Regions from separate parts of the Homo sapiens genome. Here region 2 is linked to region 1. Evidence: fine-mapped expression QTL. A gene starts in region 1. The other region holds a variant in brackets. All regions are shown on one strand. Distances are from middle to middle.

Region 1 (16,623 bases):
AGAAAAAAGAAAAAAAAAGCGCAACTCCATGTTATTACTAACAGATCCGTCAGACAGTATTTTCTTGTCAGGTTGTTGCTAACCCCTTAACTCACTGCCACGTGTCCTTATAGTAAAGTCAGAATTTTGCTAAAAAGCCAGTCCTGTGATACAATGAATGCCCCCTTTGGCCTCAAGTAAATAAAGGAAGACAAATTTTTTTTTAATCAAATCCAGGGCTTTGTTTGACAGCAATAGATATACTTGCTGGTAGACAATATACATGCATAAACGTCAAATACTGTTTTAAAAGTGTATTGAAAAGCAGCGCTGCAGGCTTGCCTATGATCAGAGAGTCTAGCCACTCCTGACAACCGACTGGAATGTGAAATTGGCGGCTGATAATGAACAAAAGGACACGTCAACTAGGAAGTTAGTGTATAGAAACACTTTAGTGCACAAACAAAGCACTAAATTACAATGTGGCTCTACAAATACCAGGGGGTGATAAGTCCACTGAGGTCATGAGTTAACTTTTCAGGCAGCTGGGATGATTAGGTGCAGATGGCTATCAGACTAATCACTGTTCTTGAATACTTCAGGATTCCCGTCTTGTGTCCTCTTATTACATTCCAGTTACAAAAATTAGAAGGAATTATGGCATTTGCTTGCTCATGGGTTATTTTACCCTGCCTCTAGAGGAAGGGAACACTATGCTGTTGGGTAAAACAAATGTCCTCATTTAAAATGTTTGGACCACGTGCAATGATTGGGGGTCTTGGCTTGTTTTCAAGACACTAGGCACTGAGGCTGAACCAAGCAGTCACACGCTCCAGAAGTAGTGGAAGAAACTACGGAAAACTGGCTCTGTGACACAGACTCTGGAGTTTGTGCCTAATGGTGCAGGTACTGAGGCCACGTTTCCTAAGGTGAGATGCAGATAGCACAGCAGGATAAAACCAAGCTGAAGCAAATAGCGTAATACCATAACCAGGCAAGTGCTGAGCAATTATATTTGGCAAAAATCTATGCTAAGCTGATGGAGGAACTAAGGAAGGAGTTACTCCTTCAGTGTTCGGAGTTCATGGACTAAACCAGGTGGAGTTCTTGTTCTAGAGATAAAGACTGGATGACTTGTTTGGTCAACTGTCTAAACTAAGAAAGGCATAACCAAGCATAATTCCAGGAAGATGCATAGATGTATGTGATTGAGTGGCAGTGGGGACCAGGGCTGGACTAGGTTAAGCTCTGAAAAGAGTACGGTGACCCCCAGCTATGCCGTACGTTGATCAGGAAAAAGACAAAGACACCTACCATCACGAATTCTGTTCAGCAACAAACTGAAGAATCTAGACAGTGCAGTAAGGTAAGAAAAATAAATAAAATATTTAAGAATGGGAAAGGAAGAAAGAAAACTCTCAATATTCACAGATGATATGATTTTGGACATAGAAAACCTCAAAAAAACTACAAATAAATCATTTGAATTAAAAATGGTTTTGGGCTGGGTGCGGTGGCTCATGCCTGCAATCCCAGCACTTTGGGAGGCCAAGATGGGTGGGTGGATTGCCTGAGCCCAGGAGTTTGAGAGCAGCCTGGGCAACATGGTGAAACCCCGTCTCTACCAAAAATGCAAAAACTTAGCAGAGCATGGTGGCACGCATCTATAGTTCCAGCTGCTCAGGAGGGTGAGGCATGAGAATTGCTTGAACTCAGGAGGTGGAAGTTGCAGTGAGCAGAGATCAGGCCACTGCAGTCCAGCCTGGGTGACAGAGTGAGACCCTGTCTCAAAACAACAAAAAATAAAAAGTAAAATAAAAATGGTATCACAAGATAGCAACTTACAAAGTCAGTATATAAAAATTAATTGTATTTCTACATACCAGCAACAAACAGAAAATCAAATTCTTAAAAAGACACTATCTTTTAAAAAAGGTATCATCTTGGCATGGTGCCATGGCTCACACCTCTAATTCCAGCACTTTGGGAGGCTGAGACAGGCAGATCACTTGAGGCCAGGAGTTTGGGACCAGCCTGGCTAAGGTGGTGAAACCCCATCTCTACTAAAAATACAAAGATTAGCAGGTCATGGTAGTGGGCACCTGTAGTACCAGCTACTCCAGAGGCTGAGGCAGGAGAATCTCTGGAAACCAGGAGGCAGAGGCTGCAGTGAGCCCAGATCAAGCCACTGCATTCCAGCCTGGGCGACAGAGTGAGACTCCATCTCAAAACTATAAAATATATAAAAAAAGATATCATCTTAAAAATACGCAATTTGTAATAGTATCAAAAATACTTTAAAAACCTAGGAATTTTAAATGTGTAAGAACTTTACCAGAAAACTATATTACTGAGATAAATGAAAGCACAATAGAATTTTTTATTTTTTTTTTGAGATGGAGTCTCTGTTGCCCAGGCTGGAGTGCAATGGCGCGATCTCAGCTCACTGCAACCTTCACCTCCCGAGTTCAAGCGATTTTCCTGCCTCAGCCTCCTGAGTAGCTGGGATTACAGGTGTGTTCCACCACGCCCAGCTCATTTTTGTATTTTTAGTAGAGATGAGGTTTCACCATGTTGGTCAGGCTGGTCTCCAACTCCTGACCTCGTGATCCACCCACCTCAGCCTTCCAAAGTGCTGGGATTATAGGCATGAGCCACTGTGCCCCTCAGAACAATGAAATTAATGGAAGGATACTAAGTTCGTGAATTAGAAGTGTTAACAATGTGAAGATGTCAATTCTCCCTAAGTCAGCCTAGAGATTTATAGCAGTCTTGATTAAAAGGTTTTTAAAAAAAATAATCACTCCTGTAATCCCAGCTCTTTGAGAGGCCAAGGCGGGTGGATCACGAGGTCAGTTCAAGACCAGCCTGGCCAAGATGATGAAACCCCATCTCTACTAAAAATACAAAAAAAAATTAGCTGGATGTGGTGGCAGGTGCCTGTAATCCCAGGTACTCAGGAGGCTGAGGCAGGGCACTGCTTGAACCCGGGAGGTAGAGGTTGTAGTGAGCCAAGATCTCGCCATTGCACTCCAGCCTGGGCAACAGAGCGAGACTCCGTCTCAAAAAAAAAGAAAAGAAAAGAAAATCAGTTTTTAAAGAATATTTGGGGGCAGGCATGGTGGTTCATGCCTGTTATCCCAGTACTTTAGAAGGCTGAGATGGGAGGATCTCTTGACCCCAGGAATTCGAGGCCAACCTAGGCAACATAAAGAGACTCCATCTCTACAACAAATAAAAAATTAGTGGACATAATGGGACACACCTGTGGTTCCAGCTACTTGGGAGGCTGAGATGGGAGGATATTGAGCCTGGGAGGTCAAGGCTTCAATGAGTCATGATTATGCCCCAGCACTCCATCCCAGGCCACAGAGTGAGACCTTGTTTCAAAAGAGAGAGAGAGGGAGAGAGAGAGAGAGAGAAAGTATTTGGAACCTGACAATCTGTTCTAAGATTTATATAGAAATGCAAAGGCCAAGAATAGCCAAGATACTTTTGAATAAGATGAAAATGATGGGAGAACTTGCTCCTTATCAGAATTAAGATAGTGCAATATGGTGCAAAAATAGAAAAAATTTTAAACATAAAGCAAAATAGCTCAGAAACCAACTTACATCAATTTTATTTAGGGCAAAGGTAGCACACATGTGTGGTATAAAAATGCAATTTTTAAAATTGATGGTTCTAAAAAATTGACTATCTATATGGAAAAAATGTCAAACCTCATACTATACATAAAAATCAATTTCAGATGGATGCTGGTAACACAGAAATGGCTCCTATAAGACCAACCCTCCTATAAATAATAAACTTGGGACAAAAATATAAAAACCCCTGAATGCCTAGAAAAAAAATCAAAAGTGAACAGAAACTCAAAGGGATCTACATGGAAAAAGGGTAAAGCACAAGTGGGTTTCCCATTTTTACAGCTTTTCACTTGTACACATGTCCAACAGTAGACACAAACAAGAATGCATATAGCAGTCAGTTCATAATGGTTAAAAACTGAAGACAACCCACATGCTCATCAACATGACAGTAAGCAATAAACTGTGGTATATTTACATAACCAAATATTAGTAGCAGCTAAAATGAATAAACTACAGTGACATGCAGTAACATTGATGAATCCAAAGTTATACAATAAAGATTATATACAAAAGTTAGACAATAAAGATTACATACAAAAAATTTAACTTATGAAAACTTCTATGTTAAAAACACAATAAAATAAAAACATATTTTTAAAGCATACATCTAGATGAAAAACTATATAAACTATTCACAATAGCAAAGACTTGGAACCAACCCAAATGTCCATCAATGATAGACTGGATAAAGAAAATGTGGCACATATACACCATGGAATACTATGCAGCCATAAAAAAGGATGGGTTCATGTCCTTTGTAGGGACATGGATGCAGCTGGAAACCATCATTCTCAGCAAACTATTGCAAGGACAGAAAGCCAAACACCGCATGTTCTCACTCATAGGTGGGAATTGAACAATGAGAACACTTAGACATAGGAAGGGGAACATCACACACTGGGGCCTGTTGTGGGGTGGGGGGAGTGGGGAGGGATAGCATTAGGAGATATACCTAATGTAAATGATGAGTTAATGGGTGCAGCACACCAACATGGCACATGTATACATATGTAACAAACCTGCATGTTGTGCACATGTACCCTAGAACTTAAAGTATACTAATAAAAAATAAATAAATAAATAAGTATGCTATATGTATTGTTAAAAAAAAGAAAGCAAAACTATATAAAAATCAATGGAATGAAAATAGCTACATTGGGTTGGGGAAGGCGAGTGCAGAGTTTACTGGAGAGATCATTTAGTTAGGTTTATTGGCAGATTTTATTTTGAGTGGTGGACTCATAAAAGCACTTGTTAAAGTATTAAATATAACTAACTAAAGAAAACTAGGCCATTGATGGACCAATTATGAGAGTGAATCATGAGTCACGAACTGTGATTAAACCAATTTTGTGTACTTGGGGTTCACAAAAGAAAGGTAGAAAGGGAGGGAAAGGCCGGACATCTAGGGTTGGGAGAAAATAAAGACTGAAATTAGATAACATTGTTGGAGCAGCCTTTGGCTATCAGAGAAAGGGTAGAGATTGGGTTTATTCAGGGCAGGCAATTGTTCAGTGTTTGCAGCGGGAGGCCTAGGGAGTGAGTGATGGTGGATTGCAGCTGACACCAAATCTGTGCTGAGGGCTACATGAGCAAGGGGAGGCCTGGCCCCAGAACAGCAGGGATGGGACTTAGAGAAACTGCTTCTTCTGATTGGGGTGTCGTTGTTGTGGGGTTGGAATGCCTTACTGGGGAGATTGCCACTGGGCTACTCCCTCATAGAGGGAGTGGGGCGCTGAATGAGTCACACAAAGCTTGGGGAAGTAGATAGAATTGAGAATCTGCACTGGAAAGGGGCTGAGCCTTCCATTGGGACTCTAAGTGCTGGAGGTTAAAAACATCAGCTTAGTTCAAATCCCAATTCTTCCTTTTATGGTTGTGTGACTTTAGGCAAGTTACTTACTCATCTGCTCTAAGGCTTCGTTCCCCAGTCTGCAAATTGGAGATGGTAATGCTTACATCACAGGGTTTTCCTAAAAGTTAAATAGAATAATGTGTGCAAAAGGTGTGGTATCTTAAAACTCAATAACTGATAGCTATGTATTTTTTTATTCTTTTAAGAAGCAGAGCCACTCAGCAATTTAGCTCTAAAGCAGACCCGTCCTTAGATAGGAACCTGAATATGAGTGGGAGGAAGGCACAGGGCTGGGCAAGCCAGAAGCTGGAAGAGGGGGACAGTCAGAGTGACTTCTGTAAAGCCAGAAGCATGGCTTATCTACCACCCTGCTGGGATATTTAAGAGAACCCCCTTTCTCAGGTTTGTTCTTCTCAAAATAAACGGGGGCATGGTTGGTGATTCATCATTCACAAGGAACCCCACCCTACCAAAAGCCAGTCTCCTCATGTAATAGCTACAGAAGGCTGGAAGTTTTCACTACCCAGGCCAATGACACCCTCACTATCCAACCCTCCTCATTCATTTCTAGTTTTATTCAAGATTAGCTCCCTCTCACTTACAAAACAAAAAAGGTTCTTATCCTAAGAAAATTATGCTTTTATAGGATTCTTGGGATTTGACATAGGTACTTTGTGAAGTTGTCTGTTTTGAATTATTTGTATTGTCTTTTTTCTCTTATTTTTTTTTTTGCGGGGGGCAAGAGGGGACTGTTTTTGACATTGTTTTTCCTGCTCTATCCTCTAGGTAAGGCTCCTTTTGAAAATGTCAGCCTGCTTGAGCCCTGCTCAGGAGACATGAGGAAAGGTGTTCTCCATGATTGATCTGTATATTCCCAGTTTCCAAGTGTGGCAGTAACAGTGAGAATAAAAGGACAGAAATCTCAAAAGGATAAAAAAATTAGCAGGCACTGGTGAAGGGCCACTCTTACAGCCGTTGCTTTCCATCATGACTTGACCTCAAACAGCTCTTTTTGTCTCTTGGGCTTTACGGAGATCATGTGTTTGGGATTTTTCCCCCTTTTGGGGGCTAATAGGAGTGAGACCAGAGAACTGTGGCAAAAGCCTCAGGGTTGGCTGTTGTCACAGTCTTCTCATTTTCTTCTTAACAGGACAAACAGGCTATATCACCTCTCTATGCAGGTATGAAAGCTTCTGAATTCTTCCACTGCACTTGCTTAAGAACAGATCTCCAACATTCTCTAACAACAGCTGTCAGCTCTCAGTGTCCATGAATGATTATTTGGCCTCTGCACTTTGAAGGTATCACCTTCACTGCCCATCACTTCCATCTAGTCACCTCTCATTACCCCATTGGCTTGCTGCTTTATCATCCCTATGGTTCTAGAAAAATGTGACAATGAGCCACCTAGGTGAAAATCCAATGAGAGAGAGGAGGATGAAATGATGGGGGACAATGATTCTGTTCACATTGGGACCCAAGAATTCTCCCCTCCCTTGTGGAAGAGAAAGCAAGCAAGCCAGCCTGTCGTGTTGCCAAGGTATTTTTTATTCCCCAACAATCTCATTGCTGCCTCCTAGTGAAAGTTTTAGAATTGAAAAGAGACTATTTTCTGGGGAGAATTGAAGGGGGAAAAGAGGAAACTCAATTTACACAGGCCCACAACTTTTTCTGAGGGAGTGTCACTCAGTTTCCGACTAGATACATTTGCGATCACATATATCACTGTGGCCGCAAGGGAAATACAGACCCACACGAATTCTACCGATCAAATCTATACTGTTCTTTAGGTGTTTACAATCAAGAGTTGACAAAATAAAGCTCATCAAACTTACAATTCTCTTTCAATTTATTTTCCTTCACTATTCACTCACACAGACTATTCCATTTCCTATATGCTGGGATTTTTTTAATCTTTAGGACAAAACTGAGCAAGAATAAAAATATACCTCTATCAATTCAAACACAAGATATGAGGAAATTAAAAGCAAATTTACATTTTGGTACATATGAATGAAAATGGCTTGAAAATTTACTTTGTTAAAAGCTCAACCAGATTCAGGCAAGAGGTGTGAAGGCTGGTTAATAACAGCAATGCCACATTGCCTTTCTTTAATGAATGGCCGATTATGAGGGCTCTTTCTTTGGTTGTGAAGGGTTAGGCCAAGAATATTGATCCCCTAGAAGCCAAGAACTAAAACCAAATCTTTCCTATTTTGAAATGTGGGAAGTTTCATTTGGTGAATAGACAAGCACACAAATAGTCATTTTCTTCTTATGACACCTTTGTTTCCCACAGTTCAACATTCTTGGACTTGAGAGTGTTCAAATTTGGCTCATTTAATATCACTAGACAGACAATATTGTAAATGTATACTGGAAAAAACTATAGCCAAGGAACCTTACATATATTATTCCTATAAGACATTGCACATGTAAGCATACATTTCAATCATATATACAAACATTTCTAATGTAATAATTTATTGCAGTAGATTTTTACACTTAAATTTGAATAGTATAAAATCACTTAACTCACTAATATAAAACACATTTTCACAATCCTTCTCCCTTTTTATGTGTCAAAATAATTTTCACGATTAAATTTAACTTTATTCACAATATTTAGTGAATAACAGATTTCATGTTTTGTGGCCTATATATACATATGTTCTTTATGTTCCAGTGTATAGTATTTTTGTCTCAAACCTATAAGTCAGTAGGTGAAAAGCTCAGGGACGATAATTTTGTAGTTTATCATCACAAAACAGTATATTTAATATTCCAGTCTATGTAATTACACATGCTAGTGTTTTCCCATTGCTCCAGCCAGAGTCTGTGAATGACAAGAGTGTCTTTACAGAGCCTGTAAAGGAATATGGTTCTGGAGAAATCAGTCCAATTATTTTAACAATGCAAGGGCATAACCGATACAAAATAAGCTTGTCAATACGACATCTTCAGAAAAACAAAAACCCACATAGATGCCACTGCTGTTCACAGTTTTGTTATCACGACTGTAATTTTTAAGTCACTATTCTTTTATTAAAATGAACAAAACAAGCCTAACTTTTACATAAATCTGATGGCCTGAAACAGTTTTAATTCACGTTCATAATTACAATCAAAGCTTTTGTGTGTGTGTGTGTGTGTGTGTGTGTGTGTGTGTGAATGAACTGAACATAAATCGTAGGAAGACTTAAAGAGTTAACCGTTTGTAGATGTTCCTACTTGCACATACCACAGGGCTAGGTCAAATCCAAACTGCCAAAGAAAGAAGGCAAGCAAGTTCTCCCTGAAGGGCAGGCCACCATGTGAATAAAACCTCCAGACAGATCATGTTCTAAATGTGCCGCAGCATACCAAAAAGTGAGGAAAATACGGAAACAGAATCATGCTGTTTGACTTCTGCATCGTGTTAACTATTTTTTTTAAAAAACTGCTCTAACTACTAAAGAAGGAAATTATGCTTAGCATAAAAATATTCCAGCACTGAGTGATTGGTACGTTTTACTTCTCTCTTCCAGGGAAACTACTTACACTTATTGATTTTAAACACCTTCACCTCAGCAGCGCATGTAAGTGAGACACTGTAAGTTAACTGTACCTTAAAGAGATCAGTATATAGATGGTTCTGGCGACCAAGATTACAACAAAAGACAAACAACACAGAATTTTTAAAGAGCTGAATAGTCAGTCAAGGATGCATACTCTCAGTCTGGGCTAGCTCTTTTTTGGAAAGGTTGCCAAGAATGTCCTTATTCCCTCCAGAGTTATTTTTCACTCCACTACCTCTGACTAGGTGCATCGCCAGTGCAAGAAAATGCGAGAAGCCTCTGTTTCTGTTGCAAGCAACACCTGGACCTCCAAGGAAAATGAGCACTTTCTTGCTAGGAACAGTCTCAAACATTTTCAAGGGTGAGTCTCCCCTTCTCCAGGTTTAACCCTCTTCCTCCGTAGCTGGAGAGGCTCTCCTACTCGTGCCCGCCGCCTTCTTCCTCCCGGCGAGGATTCCAGGGCCACAACCAGGGCAGCTGCACGCCAGGCCGGCCTGGGTAGCCGGGATGACACCAGGGTTTGCCAACGCCAAACAGGGCGCAGACTCCCCGGCGCGCTCCGGACTCTCCACTCGCCTAAACCTGCTCTCAAGTGAAAAGGAGTGGGAGGAGGAGGATTGGGAGGGGGCGGGGGGCGGAGGGGATCTGTTAATTCGAGGTCCTGGGGGTGTGGGAGCGGGAGGCGGCTCCGCTGATCCCTCCTCCCTCCCCGAGTCCTGGGCTCCACCTCCTCCGCAGGCCCCCAGATATACACACACAGCCGCGGCTGGACATGCACACCCAGTGCCGGCTCCGGGCGCGCACACATGCAGGTAGCCACACTCACCTGAGCCGGTGCAGAGGGCGGCCTGGGCTGGGAAGGGGCCCCCTGCGCCGCGGGAGTGGGGAGAGCGGGAGGTGCCACAGCGCGGACCTGCGAACTGAGGTGATGGCCCGTTTTCCTTAACTCTCCTGCAGCACCTCCGCCCCTGCGCCGGCTCGGCTCTGGCCACAGCAGCGAGGACAGAGGGGCCCCGGGCGCGGCGGACTCGCGGGCGCACGCTCCCAGGAGCGCGCCGAGAGGGGCGCCGCGGCGCAGGAAACTTGGGCGAAGTTAGTTGCAAGTGCCAGGCGGCTGCCGAGAAGAGCGAGGCGGGGACGCGGCCGGTGCCAGGCCTGCGGCGCCGCGTGGAGGCTGCGCTGCCCTCCGCGGCCGGCGAGCTCCGGGAGCCCTAAGTCGGCAGGCGCGCCTGAAGGGGCTCGGAGCGAACAGAGCCGGCATGGCCCAGGGGACGGCCGGACGCGGCTCCTCGGCGAGCCGGGAGAACTTCCTCTGAGGCCGGGCGACCAACGCTTGCTCAAGCCTCATCCACCCTCCTTCCTCGCCCCACCCGTCAGTCCAGCAGCGGGAGAGGAAGACTCGAGAGGCAGGTGCTGCGGGGGACAGCTCCCCCCTCCAAAAAAAAAAAATCACCCAGCCGATTGGGGGTTTCCCATCGGCGCACCCTGCCCGGAGCCAAGAAGACAGGCTGGTGCTGCTGTATTTGTATTTATATCCATTGCTGCGCTCTGCGTTCTCGTGGCACGCCTGGACACTCCTCCGCCTCCCCCTCCTCTTCCTCCTCCAGGGCCACCTCCCCGCCTTCCCCACCCCCATCTGCTTCTGTCAAATGAGAAAGTCACCGAGGAGAACCCAAACACTCCAGCCGCTGAGAGCCCCCTTTGGCACTTGGCAGCACGCGGCGGCGGGCTCCTCGGCTCAACTTCGAGGAGTCTCCGCGACGCAACTTTTGGGGACGCTTTGCATTTAAGAGAGAACGACCGAGGAGGAGGAGCGCTCTGCCCGGCCGCCGCTACCTGCGGGGAGCTCACCAGCAAACGCCACTGCAGACGAAGGACCCAAAGAACGTAAAGGGCAAACTGCCGCCGCGGGGAGGGGGCACCGCCGAGAAGTTAGAGTGTCCCAGAGACAACCTGCTCGAGCGCTCGGCCGGAGACACTAAGGCGGCCCGGGGCGCGGCGTGGCCCTGGGCTGGTCCCCCAGCCCCCTCCTCCGGGGCGGGAGCGACGCCGGGGCGCGACGAGCCCCGGCCGGCCGAGCGGGTCTCCGCGGGCAGCCAACATTGATTTCCTCCGGGCCGAGGGCGAGGGCCCGGGAGGCGGCGGGCTGCAGCCGCGGCAGGGCGAGAGCATGTCCAAGCCGGTGGACCACGTCAAGCGGCCCATGAACGCCTTCATGGTGTGGTCGCGGGCTCAGCGGCGCAAGATGGCCCAGGAGAACCCCAAGATGCACAACTCGGAGATCAGCAAGCGCTTGGGCGCCGAGTGGAAACTGCTCACAGAGTCGGAGAAGCGGCCGTTCATCGACGAGGCCAAGCGTCTACGCGCCATGCACATGAAGGAGCACCCCGACTACAAGTACCGGCCGCGGCGCAAGCCCAAGACGCTGCTCAAGAAGGACAAGTTCGCCTTCCCGGTGCCCTACGGCCTGGGCGGCGTGGCGGACGCCGAGCACCCTGCGCTCAAGGCGGGCGCCGGGCTGCACGCGGGGGCGGGCGGCGGCCTGGTGCCTGAGTCGCTGCTCGCCAATCCCGAGAAGGCGGCCGCGGCCGCCGCCGCTGCCGCCGCACGCGTCTTCTTCCCGCAGTCGGCCGCTGCCGCCGCCGCTGCCGCCGCCGCCGCCGCCGCGGGCAGCCCCTACTCGCTGCTCGACCTGGGCTCCAAAATGGCAGAGATCTCGTCGTCCTCGTCCGGCCTCCCGTACGCGTCGTCGCTGGGCTACCCGACCGCGGGCGCGGGCGCCTTCCACGGCGCGGCGGCGGCGGCTGCAGCGGCGGCCGCCGCCGCCGGGGGGCACACGCACTCGCACCCCAGCCCGGGCAACCCGGGCTACATGATCCCGTGCAACTGCAGCGCGTGGCCCAGCCCCGGGCTGCAGCCGCCGCTCGCCTACATCCTGCTGCCGGGCATGGGCAAGCCCCAGCTGGACCCCTACCCCGCGGCCTACGCTGCCGCGCTATGACCCCGCGGGGCCGCCTCGCGAGGACCGGTGTGCACACGTGTACATATGTATAGGTACGAGCGCTGCGGCCTCCCCGTGCGCCCTCCCGCGACCGGGGGCCCGGTTTGTATGTACATAGAATGTATAGGTGCCAGGTAGAGGCAGAGAGGCCAGGCGGGGCAGGAGTGGCCAAGCGCGCAAGGGCGCGGGCGAGCAGGCCTGTGAATTCGCAGGATCATTTCAGACCCGCACTTCGGCAGCCAACTCGAAAGCAGGCGGTTGTGTGCGGCAGCAGTTGGCGTTTGCTTTGCACTTCGGAACCTGTTGCGTTTTGACCCACGGAGGTGGAGGAGTAACTTTTTGACATGTTGGCCTTTCCAGTTTTGTTGGAAGTTTCATGGTCGGTTTTGTTTTTGTTTCTCATTCTTCTTCCTCGCCCCTCAGCCCCCCAACCCCCAACCCCCTCCCGGTCCGTGTTGCATGCACGCTGTTCAAATGTGAGGTCTGAAATGGCTGGCACACGGGAAAAGCTGCTTGTGTCATTCGTTTCTGGGAGTGGGATGGCTCTGAGCAGCCTCGCCTCCCTGTTTGTACTATTTGAACTTTGCAGATCTCTGTTCTCTCAAGCAGAACTCCCAACCAGATCCATTCTTGACCAGTGACCGGCTCGAATCTGGCCTTTTGTGTGAGATGATCACGGTTTCTTTTGTTTATCACGCCATTTGCAAATCAGAGCAAGAGCTCTTTCTCAAGGGCAAGAAACGCAAACAAGAAATATTTGTGAGATGAAAGTTGTCAATTGGATTTTCTTCCTAAACAAACAACAACAACAAACTACTAGAAGTCTCCCTGAGTCCACTCGCTTGGATTTCTGACACAGTTTACAAAAAAGGAAAAAGGCACTGCTCCTATTTTCCCTTATGGCTGAGTTCACCTTAAGATTGTAAATGTGTATATGTCAGTGAAAACATTGAGGCTTGGAAAATGTGTTATTTTCGTTGCCCTAAGTTTGAGTCGACTTTAGACTCAAAAACATTTTGAGCGAATATCAAAGTTAACTTTTAAAAATTGCGAAACTATTTCAGAATCGCAATTTTATCGAAGATTAAATCAGACTTTTTTGTCTGGTAATTATATATTTATTATTTAGCAAAACTGAAGAAAAAAAGCACAGAATTGTTTCAACAGATGTCTCTCATTTTCAGCTAGCATTTCTCTCCCAAGTTGAGCTGGTTTAATGTGTTTTGGATTTCCCTCCTCAATTGGCTTATTTTTTAGATCACCTGCAATTCATTTGCAAATTGCAATAAAACACATTTTAGAAAAAAGGAACCTTCAATTATTAGCTTTGTTTCTTTTTAAATGTATATATTTTGACTAATGTTTGTGAATGAAGTTGGCTAACATGTATTTAGTTTCATTTTGGCTTTATGTAATATAAAGTTTTTAAAATTTTAAATATGGTTTTAACCTTTATGTGTAAATGATTTTCTAGTGTGACCTTCTAATTTAATATTAGACGTCTAAGGTATATCTGTAAATTAGAATCCGACTATCACTCTGTTCATTTTTTTTGAACAAAGAGTTTAAATAAAGCCTGAACCAGGGAAAAGAAAAATCTTCTATTTCTTGTTGAGTTCCTAACAAGATTTTTATCTGAATTGCCCTTACGTGCCTGGTCCAGGTGAAGTGTAAGGTATCCTCCAAAGGCACCCTTTGTTTCACTTTTGAATAGATTTACTAGGAAATCTAAATCAAGCCATTGTTATTCAGAGCCAAAAACCTGATTTATCACATTTTTAATCGTGAATAGGAAAGAAGATTTTTAAAAAGCCCAAGTCGTTGTATTAGCTTTAACAACAACAAAAAAAAGGCATTCATGAACCAGTAGAACAGAGCCCATTGAAAACATCCAGACCTTTCAAAGCATTTCACCAGTTTCTAGTAACATTTTAAGAGGGGAAAGTTGCTTGACCACTTTATCTTGTTAGTTGAAGAGCCCCACCACTTAAATCAGTGTAATTTGTTCTCCTATCTTTGGGGTATTCCTTGTTGACACCTTAAGGTTTTATTTGGAAGGATAATCACTACTAACGACAAAGTACAAATTTTGGCCTCTTTAGGACTTAATTTTGTTATGCTAATCGCATTAAAGTAGAAGTATAACATTCAAATGGAGAGGGTTGGATTTCTAGGGCTAGACAAATTGCTACTAAAGTTTGAAAAATCATAAAGGATTTTAATTTTAGACAAGAAATAGAAGACTGTCAGAAAAAAAAAAATAGGAAGATCTCGCCCCCCCGCAACCAAAATGGAAATTCTCAAGATACTATATACAAGTCTTAAACCAGTTTCCCCATTGAGACCATCTCTGGAGCTGCACGTCTTTATAAACGACCCAAGTCTTTAAAGTCATTGTTTTCCCCCAACGGAATAATATTTTAAAAACCATGAAAAGTTTTGGAAATGTGAGAAATAGGCTCTGCTGGTTTGACCCTGATTCACTAATTAAAATGATCCCTCTCCTGTTATTCCCTGAGCTCTTTGCAATATTATAAGTTAATTCATATGGTTCTGAGCGATTATGCAAAACTAATTTGGACTGTCCAGGGGTAATTATCCCTGACACGGTTAATTAAATCCTTTCAAGGCTTCGTCTTTCCCTTTTGTAGCAGCCCATCCCTTCTCAACACGGAACTTCCTGCGGCTCGCTGGAAATCACCCCAGCCCTAAATCTTAGTTACCACCCTGAGCCTTCCAGCTCGGCCGCCTCCTCGGCCTGAAGACTCCCCGCCTCCTCCCGCCCCCTCCCCTTTTCCCAAAGATCAGCGTTTTCTGGGAGAAACGCTCCGGAGTTGTTGATGAATGAGAAGAGGACTGGAAAGATGGGTAAGAGGAGGGGTGAGGATGCCGAGGGGGAGCACCGAGGTCATATCGCCAACAGATTGTGCGGCTGTTTGAGGACCTCCACAGGCCCCACAGACTCGTTTATCACCCATTCTGACTCCAATGGTCTTGCTAACAAGTTGGCGGGTTTTGCGCCTGCAGAGAGCCTCCTGCCAAGTTAGACTGTGCAGAAGTAAGGGGTTGGAGCGGGGGGAGCGGCTCCGGGGCAAGAGGGCGTAGAGAAAGGCCCGGGGGTGGGTGGTGTAAGCGTCTGAAAGTGGCCCACAAATGCAGCGCTGTGATTGGGCAGAGAGCTGCTGCTGGCTCGCGATCTCTATCTCCATCTCTTTATCTATCTCCGTCTCTCTCCCTGTTTCTCCATTTTTCTTTCTTTCCTTCTCTCTCCTTCCTTCCTTCCATCTTTCTTCTTTCCCTTCCTTTTATTCTTCTATTTTCGTTTCTTTTCAAGGTTTTTTTTAAAGCCATGATGCAATTTCTTTGGTATTCACCGTTGTCCCAAAACTTGAAGCAAGCCTCGTATCCAAGGGGCCAGGCATGTTGCTTCGGGCTTTGTGCAAACAGGTGGAATTGCGCTGTGTAAGCAGTAAGAACTGGTGCTGGGGACGCTGTCGCGCGAGGGGGTGGCTTTGGGAGAGCAGGGTTGCTGGCCGCGATTGTTACTTCCCTTGACAATTTCCTCCTCCCCCTCCCCCAAGAAGATAGGAGAAAGCACCGCGGATCTCCCTCTCACCCCAGGCTCGGGGCGCAGAAGATGGAGAGAAGATTCCACTCTCCCCGGAGCAGATAGGGACGGTCGCGCCAGCCAATCAGAGCGCGGCTCGGCGCCGGCGCTCCCGGCCGCCTGGGCCGCCGTGTCCTCCAGGCAAGCGAAGTTCCCGCAACTCGTCCGCCTCGAGGGTCCGCGTCTTTCTTGCGCCCGCGGCCCAGCGGAGGCCGAGGGAGCCGTCCAAACTTTATTAATCTCTCCTCCTTTCTTTCTCCCTCAGCCCAGTGCATCTCAAAGGTCAGCCCTCTTCTTTTAAAAGACTGATATTATTAATGCACTGACAATTCCTCCCCCCCTTTTCTTTTTTCTCTCTTGCAGGGGGGAAAAAAAGGGAAATGGTGAAAAGAGCTTTTTTTATCCTTTTTTTTTTTTTTGTCCTTCAGTGGGAGCGTTTAGACAGTCGAGGAGGTTTTGTCCGAGAACAAAACGCAGGGTTGGGAGGTTTTGTGAGAGTGTTGTTTGTTGAAGTGGAGCTAAGAAAAAGCGGCGGCTTTCTCCTCATTGTGAAGAAACCAATCAGTGGTATTTGGAAAACTGTTAGCATTGTGCACTTCTTCTGTGTCCATTGTGAGGCGTTTCTTTTCACAAGGTTTTTTTTTCAGCCGATCCAGCTGGCCGGAATGAATAGCGGTGCAATGTGTACACGCTTTGTCCCTCCGGCCTTCAAGTAGCCCCCATTGAATAGACTAAGTTGACACTGCGTGACAGTGAAACAACATAATAAAAAATACATGAGCCCCTGAATAGGAGCAGGCGCATAAATAAATAAAATGGGTGACCAAAACTGGATAAACTGAATGACAAAACGGTGAAAGGGGAACAAAAAGATATTTAACACGCTAGATTAGCATTAGAATGCGATCTACAAGGCAGAACAATTGATGAATAGGTTTACCGGCCAAGAAAGAAATGGACTAAATGCCCTTTGA
Region 2 (16,623 bases), 51 kb before region 1:
GGTCACATCCCACTACTAACACCCTCCAACAATGTCAAATCATGTTTGGGATAAAATCAAACTTGTTTAGCATGAATAGTAAGGCCACTGCTGACCAGAGCCTGCCCTGCTTCTCAGTCTGCCCACCCCGGTGCATGCCAGCTACCCCTCCATTCCTGCCTGCCCCCTCCCCACCTCTCACAACTCCTCACTGTTTTCTCAGAAGATGCAGCCTGGCATCATCCTTTCCACCATCTGCCCTCCCCATAATCTGCCAGAATAAATAAGATTCTCCTTTCTATGTCACACTACACAACAATTTTAAAATATTTATTATTTGGAGACAGGGTCTTGCTTTGTCACCCAGGCTGCAGTGGCATGATCATAGCTCACTGCAGCCTTGATCCCCTGGACTCAAACAATCCTCCCGCTTCAGCCTCCCTAGGAGTTGGGACCACAGGCGTGCACCACCACACCTGGCTAATTTTTTAATTTTTATTTTTAGTAGAGATGAGGTTTCACTATGTTGCCCAGGCTGCTTGAACTCTTGGGCTCAAGCAATCCACTCTCCTTGCCCTTCAAAAGGGCTGGGATTACAGGTGTGATCCACCATGCCTGGCCAACATTTCTAAAAAATGTCTTTCTACTCTCCCACCTCCCAGTCAGGGACAATAGCATTCTCAGTTGGGGTAGTGTTTGTTGAATGAATGAATAAATGATTTTCAGTGTTGATGAAAATATTTTTAGAATAATAAAATAAACATAGAAGAAAGCTCATTAGATCACTTAAATCTGTGATTTTTAAAAAAAGATATGTGTTTGTGTTAGTAAACAAACAGCAAAATTATGATCAGGATAACGGGGTTATAAGTCTTAGCTGCGGACTGCTAGGTATGTTAATAGATAGATAAGAATCATCTGTAATTGACATGATTTTTGTATGCCCACAATGCCACTAACTGGTTTCTCAGGCCCTGGACAATGTTAGACCTCACTCTTAAGTAAAGAAAGTCCGTTTCCCTTGTTTACACAGTGAATTTACTCAAGGAGCACTGTCTTCATGGGTAAAACACTGGTGGCTTTACTGCTCTTTACACCTAAATTATCACAAAGTGGGAATGAATCTAAATGAGGTCATACAGTGTTTATGAACATGACATGAATTAATTTCATGAAGATAAGTCACCTTGTGATCTATATGATCAGAAACTAGTTTATTACTTTCTATATGAAAAAATAATGGTAAAATTTTGTCACTCTATCTTCTGTCTTGCCTTTCAAATTTTTTAAAAACACAATTCTACAATGATTGACGAAACTGACTTTTTAAAGAATTTCTACTTTTTATTTTTAAAAAGAAATTTGTAGTCATGAAAATATGAATATGTCACCTGACTTCTCAATAAGATCTTCATTGTAACAACTCAATTAGCTTCTGAAATGGTCTCATCTAGCTAATAACCTGCTTTCTGAGGAAATAATCAATTACTTTTGAACCAGGAAAATCTCTGATAGTAGATCAGAAAAAACATACAAACAAACCTGGAACAGGATAAATTAATAGTGTTTTGATTATTCAAAGAACATACATTATTTCAATCCAACAATCAGCTAAGAGTTCATGCCCCCTTTCTGCAGTTGAACATTAGCTTGCTAAGAGTTTTTTTTTAAAAAAAGGTACCATGAACTGATTTAGCTTGCTGCCACATATGAAATGTGGTTCTAATGACAGAATTAATCTTTCGTGAGTTACGAATTCTTTGAAATTAGAATCCAGATAATTATATGTGGGAGTCACTTCTTCCTTTTCTAATTAAGTGGATAGTATTGTCTTCACCATCCAGCTGGTTTCTCAGAAACCAAAGTTGGCTTCCATATAAATATAATTTCATTTTATGGGAAGTAGGTTCTCCCACACCACATGCCTAAGCTTCTTTAGATGTAAATGGCATGGCATGAAGGCTTGTCCTTCCAATCAAAACGTGAAACCAGTCTTTCCAAATGGCTTAATATTTAACTATTAACTACTAAGAGCAACGACTGCCTAAAATAAAAGCCCTTGGCATAATAACCATTTTCACAAAACTAATTCCTTCAAGTAGACATGTCCTAATGGACCAATAAAACTTGCCTTGTCGTGTCTGAATGCGGCATTAGCGCCTTTTAGAGCTGGCTATAATTGGTAATCACCGTTCAGGTGAAAGTGGGGGGTGGGGGAGATTTATAGAATAGTACTTTATACTGAGCTTCCACGGGGCCTTTCATCTGAAGATCTCAAAGCACTTGACAAACACTAATTAATACTCATGATACCCCAGTGAGAGAGGTAAGTATTATTATCCCCATTTCACAGATGAGATGAGGTTAAGTTGGGTAACTTGGTGAGTCAGGGACAGAATGAAGGGCTCCTAATTCTCAGTCTTGTGCTCATACAACCATTACAAGGGGCTGCCATTGAAAACATAAAAGGAAACACACCTCATTTTCAAATACCCTAAGGTGAAAACATCAATTGCAAATGGGATCACAATTAAGCCACTTGGTTTTAACAACAGTAACAACATCTTGTAATTGTCAAACTTCATTTTGAAAAAAATAGAAAATAGTATTAAAAGTAGTTTCCTTGAAGTGTAAAATAAAGATTATTTTATCATGGGAGGAGCCATACAGAAATTTATGTCGAATAATTTGATAAGGTGGCTAAAAAGTTGGATTTCACTTTTATTAGATGGTGGGTTAGATTCTTGCACAACTCTAAACTTTCTGAGGACAGATCCATCCTTTTAGAGTTTGTTTCCTAGTGTGGAGTGTAAATAGGTACATTACTCAATCAATGTTAGTTAAACCAACAAAACCAACTAAATGCCAAGGTGCTGGGGGGCATGTGAAGAGGAATAGGATAGAACTCCACCCTCAGGGGGGCTAGGGAATTAAGGAAAGACATAGAATACAAGAAAGTAATTTTAAAATTAGGGGAGAAGAGCAGGAATGGTCCAAGCATTCAGTGTGAAAACACTAAGGTTCTAGGTTCAAATTGGAACATTAAAGGTTTTGATGAGTTCTCAGAGGCTAAGACTATTGCTTTTGGAAACTGTATTAACTCTTATATGCCATCAGGGTGGCTTTTCTTCAGCTAAAGCTAATTGGCTTTCAAACAACCCATTGGGTTTTTAAATTCATTGTTTAAAATGCTGAATATTATAATAAATACTGTTTGGTCGAAGAGAAGACTTGGAAATAGCTTAGAGATGAGTAGGGAGCCAGCCATACTAGCCTTCTTTGGGTTTCTCCAAAGCCTCTCTGCCTCAGGGTCTTTGCATTCTGAATGGTAGACCATTCAGTCTACCCAGAATGCCTTTCCCACCCTCCCTCCCCACCTTCTTCACCTGACCAACTCTCACCTATCCTTTGGATTTCTGCTCAAATAGCATTTTTTGACTCTTTAGAATAGTTACAGCTTCTGAGAACTCTTTCCATATTTCCTTCAAAATAACTATCTCAGCTTGTAATGAAATATCTGGATTTTTAAAAATTAATGAATTTCCCTCTTTCTTCTACTCACTGTCTCTAATTTTAAGAGATCTATACCTGTTTTGCCTACTATTATAGCTTTAGCACACAGGAGGTCCTTAATAGAAACTTGTTGGATGAATAAACACACATGGTGCTAATTGCTGAGAAACTGGAAAGTAGCAGCATTTGGGGAGAGCTCATACTAAGAGAAAAGCAGCCTCAGTTAGTGGAGAGCAGGGCTGGTACTATCAGCGAGGCCCCAGTGTTGCTACGAGCTGGCTCGCCACCCACAGCTAGGCCATGGTGTTCATCCATTTAACATAAGCTGTTTCACAGCACAGGATACCAATGTCATTCAAGGCCATTGTTTTGTCTGATCTATCAAGACAAAACAAGAATATTGTCCAAGCCACAAAACCATCCAAACATCCCATATTCGGGCCTAGTGACTGCTGCTGCTTTGACAATTACAATGTTAGCCTTGCATTGTTCTTCTCACCTGCAATGTAAAAATGTCAGTCGTGGAATAGTCCCTCCTTCCTGACAGCAGCCTTGAACACTCCCTAAAATCTCCTAAACATGTCCCAGGCCTATAATAAGATCTTTTCAACATCCTCTTACTGAGATGCCCCATGGTGCCTCGTGATGTGAGGTCTCCCTCATCACAATGAGCCAACTGACCCAATTCCATCAATAAACCAACTTTGTGTCTCTGGTGGTCTTTGACCTGGGGACATGGAAAATACAAAGACTTGTATATAATGAGACAAAAAAAAACTGATATACAGCTGTTCAAATATGTCTCCCTTCCCAGAGAATGATTTAGGACTGGGAATGTTTCACTCCAGGAAGTCATTCAATCTGATTTTCAAGATATTATTGAAACACTGTATTAATATAGATCTTCCTAAATTATCAGATGATTTAAAAATCTCTTCACACTGGATTTTGGAAAGCAAACAATTATGAATTATTTTCATGGAAAAATTTTTAATGCGTTTTTATATATTCTTAAATGAAAATGGGTGTATGCTCTTTGGAATTGTCAATTTGAGGTAGCCAACTAGAAGAAAACAAGGTAACTTCCAAGGTTAATCTGCAAGGTACATAGACCAATGTCGATAATCAAAGACTGATTAAAGTTCTTGTAAGAAACTACTTTTCATGCTTCTCTCAACTGCTTCATGTAGGCTACCACCTCAAGGGGAAACTGTAGTCTATGCTTTTGCTATTTGTTTTTTTTCCTGTCTATTCAGTTACCTAAAGACCTAATATATTTGGGCGTTAGAATGAGAATGCATCTTCTCTATCTCTGTAATCCAATTCATTTCTTCCTAACAATTCTAGTTGCAAACTCCGCCCTCTGCCTCTTCTTAAGCAACTCACAGCAAATTCATTCAAAGCATTCCCAAAGCCAAGGGCAGATTTTAAAGGTTGTTCACAGTCAGCAGGGGCAGTGTATCTCAATCTTTTGTATCTCAGTTTCCTTTGGGATGACATAAAAATTTTCTGATTTCATCAACTGCTGGGTGTTCCCTGGAGTCCCCACTTGAAGACAATGGCTTTAGATTCTAGTACTTCTTAAGTTGATATATCATAAACCCCCCGTCTCACGTTAAGAATTATTCATCTCTTTAGAATGGAGCTTTCAGTCAAATTTGGTGTCACTCCTCAATATTCTGCTTATTGTTTCAATTTCATTAAATAATCTGTGTTTTCTGTTGCCTTATGGATCCAAAGAGAACCTTTGCCAGACCATCTTGGGAACATCCTTACCATGTGTCTCTCATGCTGCCCCCAGTTCTGGTTTAGCATCTGAATTCTTTTACCCACATATTTAACTTTTCTTGCCCATCTCATCTTGCTACTCCCCTTTCTTTCTTTGTGTATATATTGCATTTGAAGCTCAGCTTGTTTGAAACTAAACTCATTATTTGCCCTTTCCCACTTCCAAATTAATCCCTCACCACCTGCTCTTTTAAATATAGGTCTTTTTGCTAATTTGTTTCCATTTTTCTTGCCCCTAGCATTAAAGCAATTTTCAAACCCCATCAGTTCTTCCTTCACAGTCTCCTTTTTCCATTCCCTCCTTTATTCCCTTGGACTACTCCCAAGTCTGCTGTCTCTGTCTCTCTTTTCTCCATTCCATCTGCCAGATCATTGCCAAATTAGCCTCTGCTGAATATTATTTCAATCATGCTATAGCCCTGTTAACAAAATATATACAAATATAAATAAAGACACATCTACCAAATCTAGTTCGGACTCTTTAGTTTGGAGTTGGGTGGGCTACAGGGCCTCCCCTCACCCCCACAGAGAGTTTTGAAAAAAAGACAGTTTTTAAGAGTCAGAACCAGAATTCAGATGCAAGTCTTTCAACTTTAAATCTTCTATAACCTAACTACAAGACTGTGTGACTTCTTGCTAAACTTCATTTCAATATGTTTATATATTTCATTTGTAAAAAAAAAGGACCAACATGCAAAACACACACACACACACACACACACACACACACACACACCCCCCACTGTAGTACTGGAAGAGCTACATAATAAGTGTGCTTATGAATAACTCATTAAACAAAGACCACCTCTTGACATCCTCTTGTCTTTCCTCTCCATTCCAAGTTTTACCAGCAACACAAATATTTGATACTACAGCATTTTTACAAATTGAAGGTTCGTGTCGATCCTGCGCTGAGCGAGTATATCGCTCACTTTGTGTCTCTGTGTCACATTTTGGTAATTCTCACAATATTCAAATTTCAAAGTTTGAAATATTTCAAACATTTTAATTATTACTATATCTGTTTTGTTGATCTGAGAGCAGTGATCTTTGATGTTACTATTGTGATTGTTTTGGGGTGCCATGAGCTATACCTATATAAGACAATGAACTTAATTGATAAATGTTGTTTTTGTTCTGACTGCTCTACTGACCATTGTTTCCCCATCTCTCCCCCTCCTTGGGTCTCCCTATTCCCTGAGACACAGTGATATTAAAATTAGGCCAATTAATAGCCCCTACAATGACCTCTAAGTATTCAGGTGAAAGAAAGAGGTACAAGTCTCCCACTTTAAGTCAAAAGCTAGAAATAATTAAGCTTCAATGAATGAAGGCTGAGAAGGGTAAGGAAGCTGCAGAAGAAAAACTGACAGCTGGCAGAGTTGGTTTGCGAGGTTTAAGGAATAAAGTTTTCTCCATAACATAAAAGTGCAAAGTGAAGCAGCGAGTGCTGATGGGGAAGCTGCAACAAGCTATCCAGAAGATCTAGCTAAGATCATTGATAAAGGTAGCTTTGCTAACAAATTTTCAGTGGAGACAAAACAGCCTTGGATTGGAATAAGATGCCATCTAGGACTTTCATAGCTAGAGAGAAGACAATGCTTGGCTTTAAAACTTAAAAGAAGAGGCTGACTCTCTTGTTAGGGGCTAATGTGACTGGAGACTTTAAGTTAAAGCCAATGCTCATTAACCATTCTGAAAATCCTAGGGTCCTTAGGAATGACACTAAATCTACTCTACTTGTGCTCTGAAAAGGGGAAAATAAAGTCCAGATGACAGCACATTTGTTTAAAACATGGTTTACTGAATATTTTAAGCCCACTATTGAGAACTACTGCTCAGAAAAACATTGCTTTTTTCCAAACATTACTGCTCATTGACAATATACCTGGTCACTTATGAGCTCTGATGGAGATGTACAAAGAAATTAATGTTGTTTTCATGCCTGTTGAGGTGGTTTGGGTCTGTGTCCCCACCCATATCTCATGTGGAATTGTAATTCCCAGTGTTTGAAGTGGAGCCTGATGCAAGGTGACTGGATCATGGAGATGTTTCTCATGAATGGTTTAGCACTATCCCCTTCGTGCTGTTCTGGTGACAGTGAGTGGGTTCTCATGAGATCTCGTTGTCTAAAAGTGTGTGACACCTCTCCCTTTGCTCTTGCTGCTCCTGCCATGTAAGACACCTCTCTCCCCCTTCACCTTCTGCCATTATTGTAAGTTTCCTGAGGCCTTTCCAAGTCATGCAGATGCCAGCATCGTATTTCCTGTACAGCCTGCAGAACCCCAAGCCAATTAAACCTCTTTTATGTATAAAATACCTAGTCTCAAGTATTTCTTAAAGCAATGTGAGAACTGACTAGTACATCTGCTAATAGTACATCCATTCTACAGTCCATGGATCAAAGCAGTGTATGTAATGTTGTTTTTGTGTAAGAAAGGGGAGAGGATAACAACATGCTTTCAAATTTGCTTATATCTGCAAAAAGAACTCAGGAAGAATGCAGAGGAAACTAAATGAGTAGTTGTTCATAGAGAAGTGGAGGAGATGAAAACCAGAGTAGAGGTGATGACGCAGCCCCCAAATTGGGGCTTAGCCTGGGAAGGTCCGTGGTTTCCCCCAGGAAAGAATTCAAGGGCAAACCAGTGGTATTAGCAACTTTTATTGGACCAACAGTGTACAGCAGCAGCAGAAGTACTGCTCCCTGCAGAGTAGGCCTACCCCATAGAAAGTGTGCCCAGAATAGCTGCTCAGACGCAGTGCTGCAGTCATATTTATACCCGTTTTTAATTATGTGCAAACTAAGGGGCAGATTATGCAGACATTTCTAGAAAAAGGATGGTAACGTCTGGGTTGTTGGGTTGTTGCCATGGAAAGGGGTGGTAACTTCCGGTTGTTGCCATGGCAATGGTAAACTGACATGGCACACTGGTAGGTGTGTCTTATGGAAAGGTGCTTCCACCTCCTCCCTGTTTTAGTTAGTCCTCAATTTGGTCCGGTGTCTGGGCCCTGCCTCTGA[AGTTGATTGCG/G]TCCTGCCTCCTGAGTCACGTCCTGCCTCCATCCTCAGTAAGACCTCTCAATGTTTACCCTGTTAAAGCATTTTGATATTTGAATTGTACAAATGTATAACTCTTCAAACCAAATCCAACAAATAAAGTCTCTAAAGAAAAATATATAACTTTTTATAATTCTAGGAGTAACACCTACTTACGGAATATTTTAAAAGAACAGGGATATAAAAGCAATCCTTCATAATCCCATTTCTAGAAATAATCACTGTAAAGATTCTGGCATATTTCCTTTCAATCTCCCATGCAGATCTCCATAAATATTTGTGTCTATACTTACAAAGTTGAGATCACACTTCAATACACTTTTGTACTTTGCAGTTAACACTTGAGATAATTTTACAAGCATTTTATTATGTCATTTAAAACTCTTGATAATAATCATAATCTTAATATTCATTCTTCAAAAAACGTTAATAGTAAAGTCCATTATTCCTAACCATTGATTAAAAAATTCATTCCTAATTAACTGTAGCCTTAAGGCTTCCCTCAGGTTTCCCAAACAGGGCACATGCAGGACAATGCTTTCAGGACATCTTTGTCAGAGCTCCCTCAGCCATGCTGAAATGCTGTTTTGCCACATTAACAGGGAGCACCATGGGAACCACTCTAGAGGGTTTGTTAAGAGGAGAGGAGCTCAGAAGGCATATTCATGGAATACACAATTCTTGAACTTCATCAATGCCCAGGACTGTTGTCATTGTTGACTGACACAGTGCTGGGATATTTCACTACAGGCATACCTCAAAGATATTGTGGGTTCCATTCCAGACCACCACAATAAAGTTAATCTCTCAGTAAAGTGAGTCACCCAAATATTTTGATATCCCAGTGCATATAAAAGTTACATTTACACTATACTATAATCTATTAAGTGTACAATAGCATTATGTCTGAAACAACAATGAACATATTTTAGTTTTATAATAATTTATTGCTAAAAAATGCTAATGGTCATCACCATCTGAGTCTTCAGTGAGTGGTAATCTTTTTGCTAGTGGAGGGTTTTGCCTCCATGTTGATGGACGCTGACTCATCAGCGGGTGGTTGCTGAAGGTTGGGATGACTGTGGCAATTTCTTAAAATGAAAAAAAAATGAGGTTTGCCACATCAAATGAGTCTTCCTTTCATGAAAGATTTCTCTGTAGCATGCAGTGCTGTTTGATAGCATTTTACCCACAGTTGAACTTCTTTAAATATTGGAGTCAATGTTCTCAAGCCCTGCAGCTGCTTTATCAACAACATTTATGTAATATTTAAATCCTTTGTTGTCATTTTGACAATACTTACAGGATCTTCATTAGGAGTAGATTCCCTCTCACGTAACCACTTTCTTTGCTCGTTCATAAGAAGCAACTCCTCATCCACTCAAGTTTTATCATGAGACTGAAGCAATACAACTACATCTTCAGGCTCTATTATATATTTTCTCCTCTGCAAAAAGAGTTATGAAATAATTTTAAAATTTAAATGATTTTAAAGTACTTTTAAAATTTAAATGATTTTAAAGTAAAATAATTTGTAGTATACACTGAAGGCAAAAAGTGTTATATAAATGCTAAATAATAATATTGTAAAGCCCCTATATTCTGTGATAATGAGCACTATATAAATGCTAAGTGGAAAAGAATAGAAAATGTAGTGTTTCGAAATGGCTTATAAATGTATCAGGTTTCTTGTGTTTCATATGCACTATATATATAGGACTTGCAGCAAAAATGCAAAAGCAAATACTTATCTATTTTAATAATTGTATAGCTGTACTATTCATTATAACACTGTGACTCTCTAAATCATTTTGTACCTAAGAAGAAGAGGTCTTTTCCTGTTAGCTATTACTGTGAAACAAAATACCCCAAACCTTAGTGGCTTAAGTCATCAAGCATTTTATTACCTCTTATGATTCTGTGAATTACCCAGGCTCAGATGCCTGCTCCATATGGTTCACCTGAGGCTGGAGTCATTTGGAGGCTCAATTGGTTGGACTACCCAAGATGGCTTACTTGCATAGGTGGCAGTTGCTCATAGTGGTTGGCTGGTTGCTCAGTTGGGAGTCAACTGGAGTGTCTCAGTTTTCTTCTACTGGCTTCACTGTAGGGCTTGGGTTTCTCATACTATGGTGGCTGGGAACATTCCAAGCAGACCAGTCCCAATGTACAAGCAGCTTACTGAGCCTCTGCTTGCACTGTTTGCCAATGACCCATCAGCCAAAGTAAGTCATGAGACCAAGTCTAGAGTCAGTGTGGGGAGGACTATATAAGGCATGAATACCTAAAGGTGTGGTTAAATCAGAGCCATCATTGTAATAGTCCACCACAGAGCCATAGCCAGCCTTGAAAATATCCTCGTATCCCTGAGTGGCACAGAAACAGATGGGACCCTTGCCATCAACACCATCATAGCAAAGATCTAGAATAGAAGGTTGCAGGGCTTACAACAATCATTCCATACAAGGCACCTCAGTGATGACCTGTGTGGAATGGTAATGAAGGACCAGATGGGATAATAGTGACCCTAATACAAAATAGAACCATCACACCCATGGCACTCTATAACTCTCATGTATTACTTAAGAATACATTCAGCTGCAAGTAGCATAAAAGACAATTCTAATGACTTTAGAAAGAGACCTTTATTTCTCTCACATAATAAGATGTCCAAAAAACAGATGGTTACAAATTGGTTCTATAGTTCAACAATGTGTTTGTAATTTTTGGCTTTTCCTGCATGGTCATAAGATTGCTGCCCCAGCTCCAGGGATCATATCTGAGATCAAAGCAGGAAGAAAGAAGAGGGAGGGAGGAGCTAGCATCAAGCCATCTGAAATCAAAAGCTTTGCTAGAAATTTCCAGCTGACTTCTTCTTATGTCTCACTGGCCAGAATTGGTTACCCCAGCTGCAAAGAAGGCAAAGAAAAGGAATAGTCAGCTGGCACTTCGCTGCTCAATATGGTATCAAGAGTCTGTAAATAAAGGAGTTGGGGTGGGGGCAGTTATATTGGTTAAAAAAAAGTGTCTGTCTCTACCCTAAAACTTAGAAAAACAACCCAGAAACAAACTCAAAAACAACCCAGAAGTGTCTGAGATAAAAGCAGCTATAACCTTGATAGAATGAGATCTTGAAATCCGAATTAAGTTATTTTAAAGAAAAACAAAGTTACATACAGCTGCTATGATTAGATAATATCTCTGAAGGGTTATTCCCTGGCACATAGCAAGTGCCAATACATGTTAGCTGTTGTGGTAAATATGATGTAATAGTAGTGGTGCTGAAGATATTAATTATTATTACAACTGGCATGAGATAAATTAAGGTTTCCCTATTCATCCAACAAACACTTATTGAGCTTTTTCTTCATACAAGAACCTTTACAATTCAAATCTTAGGAAGCAAAGAGTTTAGTGGGTGATTCATATTATTAGGGGAAAAAACATTTATTTTGGATGCAGTATTAAGAGGAAAAGATAAGTGCTTTTGGAAAACATTCCTAATGATTCAGAATGCAATTCATTCTCCTTAAGAACATACCTATGGAGATGGAAAACACTGTGGTCTCAATTAAAATTTTTTTTGTGGTGAAAAGCACATATAACTCAATTGAAGGTCAGGAGTGCTGGCTCATGCCTGTAATCCTAGCACATTGGGAGGCTGAGGCAGGAGGATCACTTGAACTCAGGAGTTTTGAGACCAGCATGGACAACATAGTGCGACCTCATCTCTACTGAAATTAAAAAAAAAAAAAATAGCTGGGCATGATGGTGCATGCCTGTAGTCCCAGCTACTCAGGAAGCTGAGGCAGGAGGAACACTTCAGCCTGGGAGGTCAAGGCTGCAGTGAGCTGTGTTCACACCATTGCACTCCAGTCTAGGTGACAGAGTGAGACCCTGTCTCAAAAAACAAACAAACAAAAAAAAATTAAAAATATTCAATTGACCATCTTAGCCATTTTAAAGTGTACAGTATAGTAATAAAAAGATATTTTTGTTGCAGTAACATTTTCAGTAAAAATAACAGTAAATATTTGATTGGAATAAGGAAATATATAATATAGACCTGAAGAAAGAGGGAATATCAAACCTGTCTGTTTTGGGCTGTTTTATGATTTTCTTTAACTTGGTTTGACTTTTCGAGTCAGCAAAAGATTAAAGTTGATACAGAAACACACACACATCCCCCCGGACACACACACATTCCTCTGTTGGAATGTCTTGGTTATGGAGATGTGTCTGCTCTTTGTAATAGAAAAGGACACAGGTTTACTGCTAAGCCCAGGCAGGTTTGCTGGGCCAGCTCTAAGAGCTCAGAATGAAAACACAGAAGAAAAAATCAAAACAGGTAACATGCCCCAAAAGTGCACAGAACTTTTCTGAGTGTAAGAGAAGGGAACAGGGAGAAGAGAATGGGATGGAACTGTGAGGGGTGGAATGCCAGGGAGGATTAACAGGATGGATTTCAGGAGGGAACATGAGAGAAAACAAAACTCAAATGATGGTTTGGCATGATCCAAAAACAACAGATAGAAGGTAAATAAATGTTTCCTTAGAAGAGAGAACCTTGAAGTTTCCCCAAAAAAGGAAGAAAAAATGAAGGGAAAGAAAGAGAAGCAAAGGAGATGGGGAGAAAGGGGAAGGAAGGGAGACATCAATAAAGGCAAAAGCCAGAGAAAACAAGAAGCAAGTCTAACAGTTAGAATTCGAGTCCCAGAAGAAGAAGAATGCAAGAAATAGCACAATTCCAGGCAAGGAGAAGAGATACAACACTCAGGTTACTTTTAAGAAGAGGAAAGTACCTTTTGGCCTCAACTCCCAGCTTCCAGTAATTTGATAAAATGACGAACACAGAGGAAAGAAGAGAGGCAACTGCTGAGGTCCCCTAGGCCTTTGAGAAAACGGAGTTGTACCTTTGGCAACATAAGTGCATATCTACAAGAAAGGCGATAATGTAGACACCAAGGGAATGGGTACTGTCCAAAAAGAAATGCCTCACAAATGTCACCATGGCAAAACTAAAAGAGTCTACAAAGTTACCTAGCATGCTGTTGGCATCATTGTAAACAAACAAGTTAAGGGCAAGATTCTTGCCAAGAGAATTAATATGCATATTGGGCATATTAAGCACTCTAAGAGCCAAGATGATTTCCTGAAAGTGTGTGAAGGAAAATAACCAGCATAAAGAGGGAAGCTAAAGAGAAACCTGAAGCTGCAGCCTGTTCCACCCAGAGAAGCACACTTTGTAAGAACCAATGAAAAGGAGCCTGAGCTGCTGGAGTCTATTAACTGAATTCATGGTATAACAGGTGAAAAAAAAGAAGAAGAAGAAGACTTCTGGATTGTAAAGGAAGAAAGAGGAAGAGAAGGAGGAAGGGAAAGAGCAGGCAAAAATAAATTTGAAAGCTCTTTGAAACCACAAAATATGGTAAAATGAATAATTTTAAGAAGAGAGTACACTGTAAATCACATCTTAATATTAATATTATGTAAAAATTATGTATAAAAGCTAGAGATAAGTCTGTAGAACTCAAAGAGAAACAATGTAAACATTAGTACAAAAAAATGAATGCAATGTAGTTATTCAAATGTAGTTCAAAATATGTAAGATAAGGTAGAGAAGATATTAAATCATTAATAAGAATTGGGGAAGAAAAAAGAATCAGATTTCAAATTAAGCATTATATTAACTAGGATAATTCAGGTATCCACTAGGACCTGATAATTCAGGTCTCCATCTATGACAAACCCACAGCCAATATCATACTGAACAGGCAAAAGCTGGAAGCATTCTCCCTGAGAACTGAAACAAGAGAAGGATCCCCACTCTCATGACTCCTATTCAATATAATACTGGAAGTCGTAGCCAAAGCAATCAGGCAAGAGGAAGAAATAAAAGGAATCCAAATAGGAAAAGAGTGAGTTGAATGATCTCTCTTCATAGACAATATGATTCTATACCTAGAAATCCCCACAGCTTCTGCCCAAAGCCTCCTAGAATTGATAAACAACTTCAGTAAAATTTCAGGATACAAAATCAACGCACAATAATCAGTAGTATTTCTATACATCAAAAACATCCAAGCTGAGGGCCAAATCAAAAATGCAATTCTATGCTGCAGAAGGATAGTGTATAATAATAATAAAAGAATACAATTCTATTCACAACAGCCACAAAAAGAATAAAATACCTAGGAATACAGCCAATCACAGAGGTGAACAATCTCTCCAACAAGAGTTACAAAACACTGCTGAAAGAAATCAGAGACAACAAAAACAAATGGAAAAACATTCCATGCTCATGAGTAAGAAGAATCAATGTTGCTAAAATGGCCATACTGCCCAAAGCAATTTACAGATTCAGTGCTATTCCTATCAAATTACCAACATCGTTTTTCACAGAATTAGAAAAAACTCTTCTTAAATTCACATGGGTTGAGAGGGACCTCGCGCCGCCCCCTTGCCTCCGGCGCGCAGGGCCTCTAAGGGGCCGCTCCCGCCCTGCGCGGGCCTGGCCTGGACCGGAAGCTGCGCTGCGTGCCTGCTCCTGGCTCTGGGGGCGGGCACCGGGGCCAGCTGGACAGGGGCAAGAAGCACAAGGAGCGCAAGTCAGACAAACACTTCTATGAGGGGTATGTAGAGAAGCCCTTGAGGCTGGTCCTCAAAGTAGGAGGGAACGAAGTCACCGAATTCTCCACGGGCAGCTCAGGGCACGACTCCAGCCTCTTCGAAGGCGAATAAGATCATGACAAATACAAGGACAGAAAGCAGAAAAAGAGAAAGAAAGGAGAGAAGCAGGATCCAGGGGAAGAAAAAGAGAGAAAACGGAGGAGAGTTAGGGAGGATAAAAAGAAGCGAGATCGAGACCTTGTGGAGAATGAGGCAGAAAAAGACCTCCAGTGTCATGCCCGTGTGAGATCCTCTCACAAGCTCTTTAGCCAAACAAGAAGAAGTAGAACAGACACCCCTTCAAGAAGCTTTGAATCAACTGATGAGACAATTGCAGAGAAAAGACCCAAGTGCTTTCTTTTCATTTCCTGTGACTGATTTTATTGCTCCTGGCTACTCCATGATCATTAAACACCCAAGGGATTTTAGCACTATGAAAGAAAAGGTCAAGAACAATGACTACCAGTCGATAGAACTAAAGGATAACTTCAAACTAATGTGCACTAATGCCATGATTTACAACAAACCAGAGACCATTTATTATACAGCTGCAAAGAAGCTGTTGCACTGGGGGATGACTATTCTTAGCCAGGAAAGAATTCAGAGCCTGAAGCAGAGCATAGACTTCATGGCTGACTTGCAGAAAACTCGAAAGCAGAAAGATAGAACAGACTGGGGAGGATGGAGGCAGAGTGGGGAGGACGAAGGCTGCTGGCCCAGGGAGAGAGGACTCTGGAGATGCCGAAGCACAAGCCTTCCAGAGTCCCGGCAAAGAAAATTAAAATATAGACAAAGATATGCTTGAAGATAAGTTTAAAAGCAATAATTCAGAGAGAGAGAGCAGGAGCAGCTTGACCAAGTTATGAAGGAATCTGGAGGAAAGCTGACCAGACAGCCTGTGAACCGTCAGTGTGAATTTGAAAGAAGAAAACCAGATGGAACAACAACGTTGGGACTTCTCCACCCTGTGGATCCCATTGCAGAAGTGTGAGACTTGAATTCTGGACCTACAGTTCTTATGCACCACGTATGACTCCACGTTTACAAATATCAGCAAGGATCATTCTGATTTAATCTATCCAACCTATGGGGAAGACTCTGATCTTCCAAGAGATTTCAGCATCCATGAGTTTTGGGCCACATGCCAAGATTATCCATATGTTATGGCAGATAGTTTACTGGATGTTTTCACAAAAGGAGGGAATTCCAGGACCCTACAAGAGTTGGAGATGTCATTGCCTGAAGATGAAGGCCATACTAAGACACTTGGCCCAGCAAAAGAAATGGAGATTATAGAACTAGACCCAGCAGGGCATCTGGACCCCAATACTCAAGACAGGCTCACACACTGAAAGTAGTAAACTTTGGCGCTCCAGTTGAAGTTTTTGACTCTGAAGAACCTGAAGTATTCAGAAGAAACTTGATGAGGCCACCAAATTGTTCAGGGAGCTCCAGGAAGCCCGGAACGAGCATTTGAGCACCAGACCCCCTCCCAGTATGATCTGTCTCTTGGGTGCCTCCTGCAGAGAAATGCATCTCACTGAACAAGTGACCAATAATCTTAAAAACTTGCACAGCAAGTAACTCCAGGTGATATTGTAAGCCTGTATGAATTTCAA

Alleles and levels. Positions count from the first base shown, and alleles are read on the strand shown. Sizes are in standard deviations (SD) of each study's normalised expression.
For the expression in testis of the gene that starts at base 10,716 in region 1, AGTTGATTGCG is the high allele of the variant in region 2 and G is the other (moderate effect, 0.57 SD a copy in GTEx).

The links.
Region 2: its variant is fine-mapped to the expression of SOX21 in testis (GTEx, PIP above 0.99).

The regions. Positions count from the first base shown.
Region 1 is chr13:94,706,638-94,723,260 of GRCh38, reverse strand. SOX21 (SRY-box transcription factor 21) reads left to right here and starts at 10,716. Exons shown (of 1, transcript NM_007084.4): 1 at 10,716-13,639. The coding sequence starts at 11,212. The coding sequence ends at 12,042. It overlaps SOX21-AS1 (SOX21 antisense RNA 1), which reads right to left and starts at 10,545. Exons shown (of 2, transcript NR_046514.1): 1 at 9,868-10,545; 2 at 7,316-9,623. LOC112268114 (a long non-coding RNA gene) reads left to right here and starts at 9,818. Exons shown (of 2, transcript NR_158368.1): 1 at 9,818-9,853; 2 at 9,999-10,541. LINC00391 (long intergenic non-protein coding RNA 391) reads left to right here and starts at 14,760. Exons shown (of 3, transcript NR_170286.1): 1 at 14,760-14,910. RefSeq lists enhancers at 9,491-9,992, 16,152-16,623, 15,498-16,623.
Region 2 is chr13:94,757,567-94,774,189 of GRCh38, reverse strand. LOC101927284 (a long non-coding RNA gene) reads right to left here and starts at 13,249. Exons shown (of 5, transcript NR_110754.1): 1 at 13,138-13,249; 2 at 9,639-9,782. It also overlaps the pseudogene BRD7P5 and the pseudogene RPL21P112. The variant AGTTGATTGCG/G (reference allele first, on the strand shown) is at 8,300.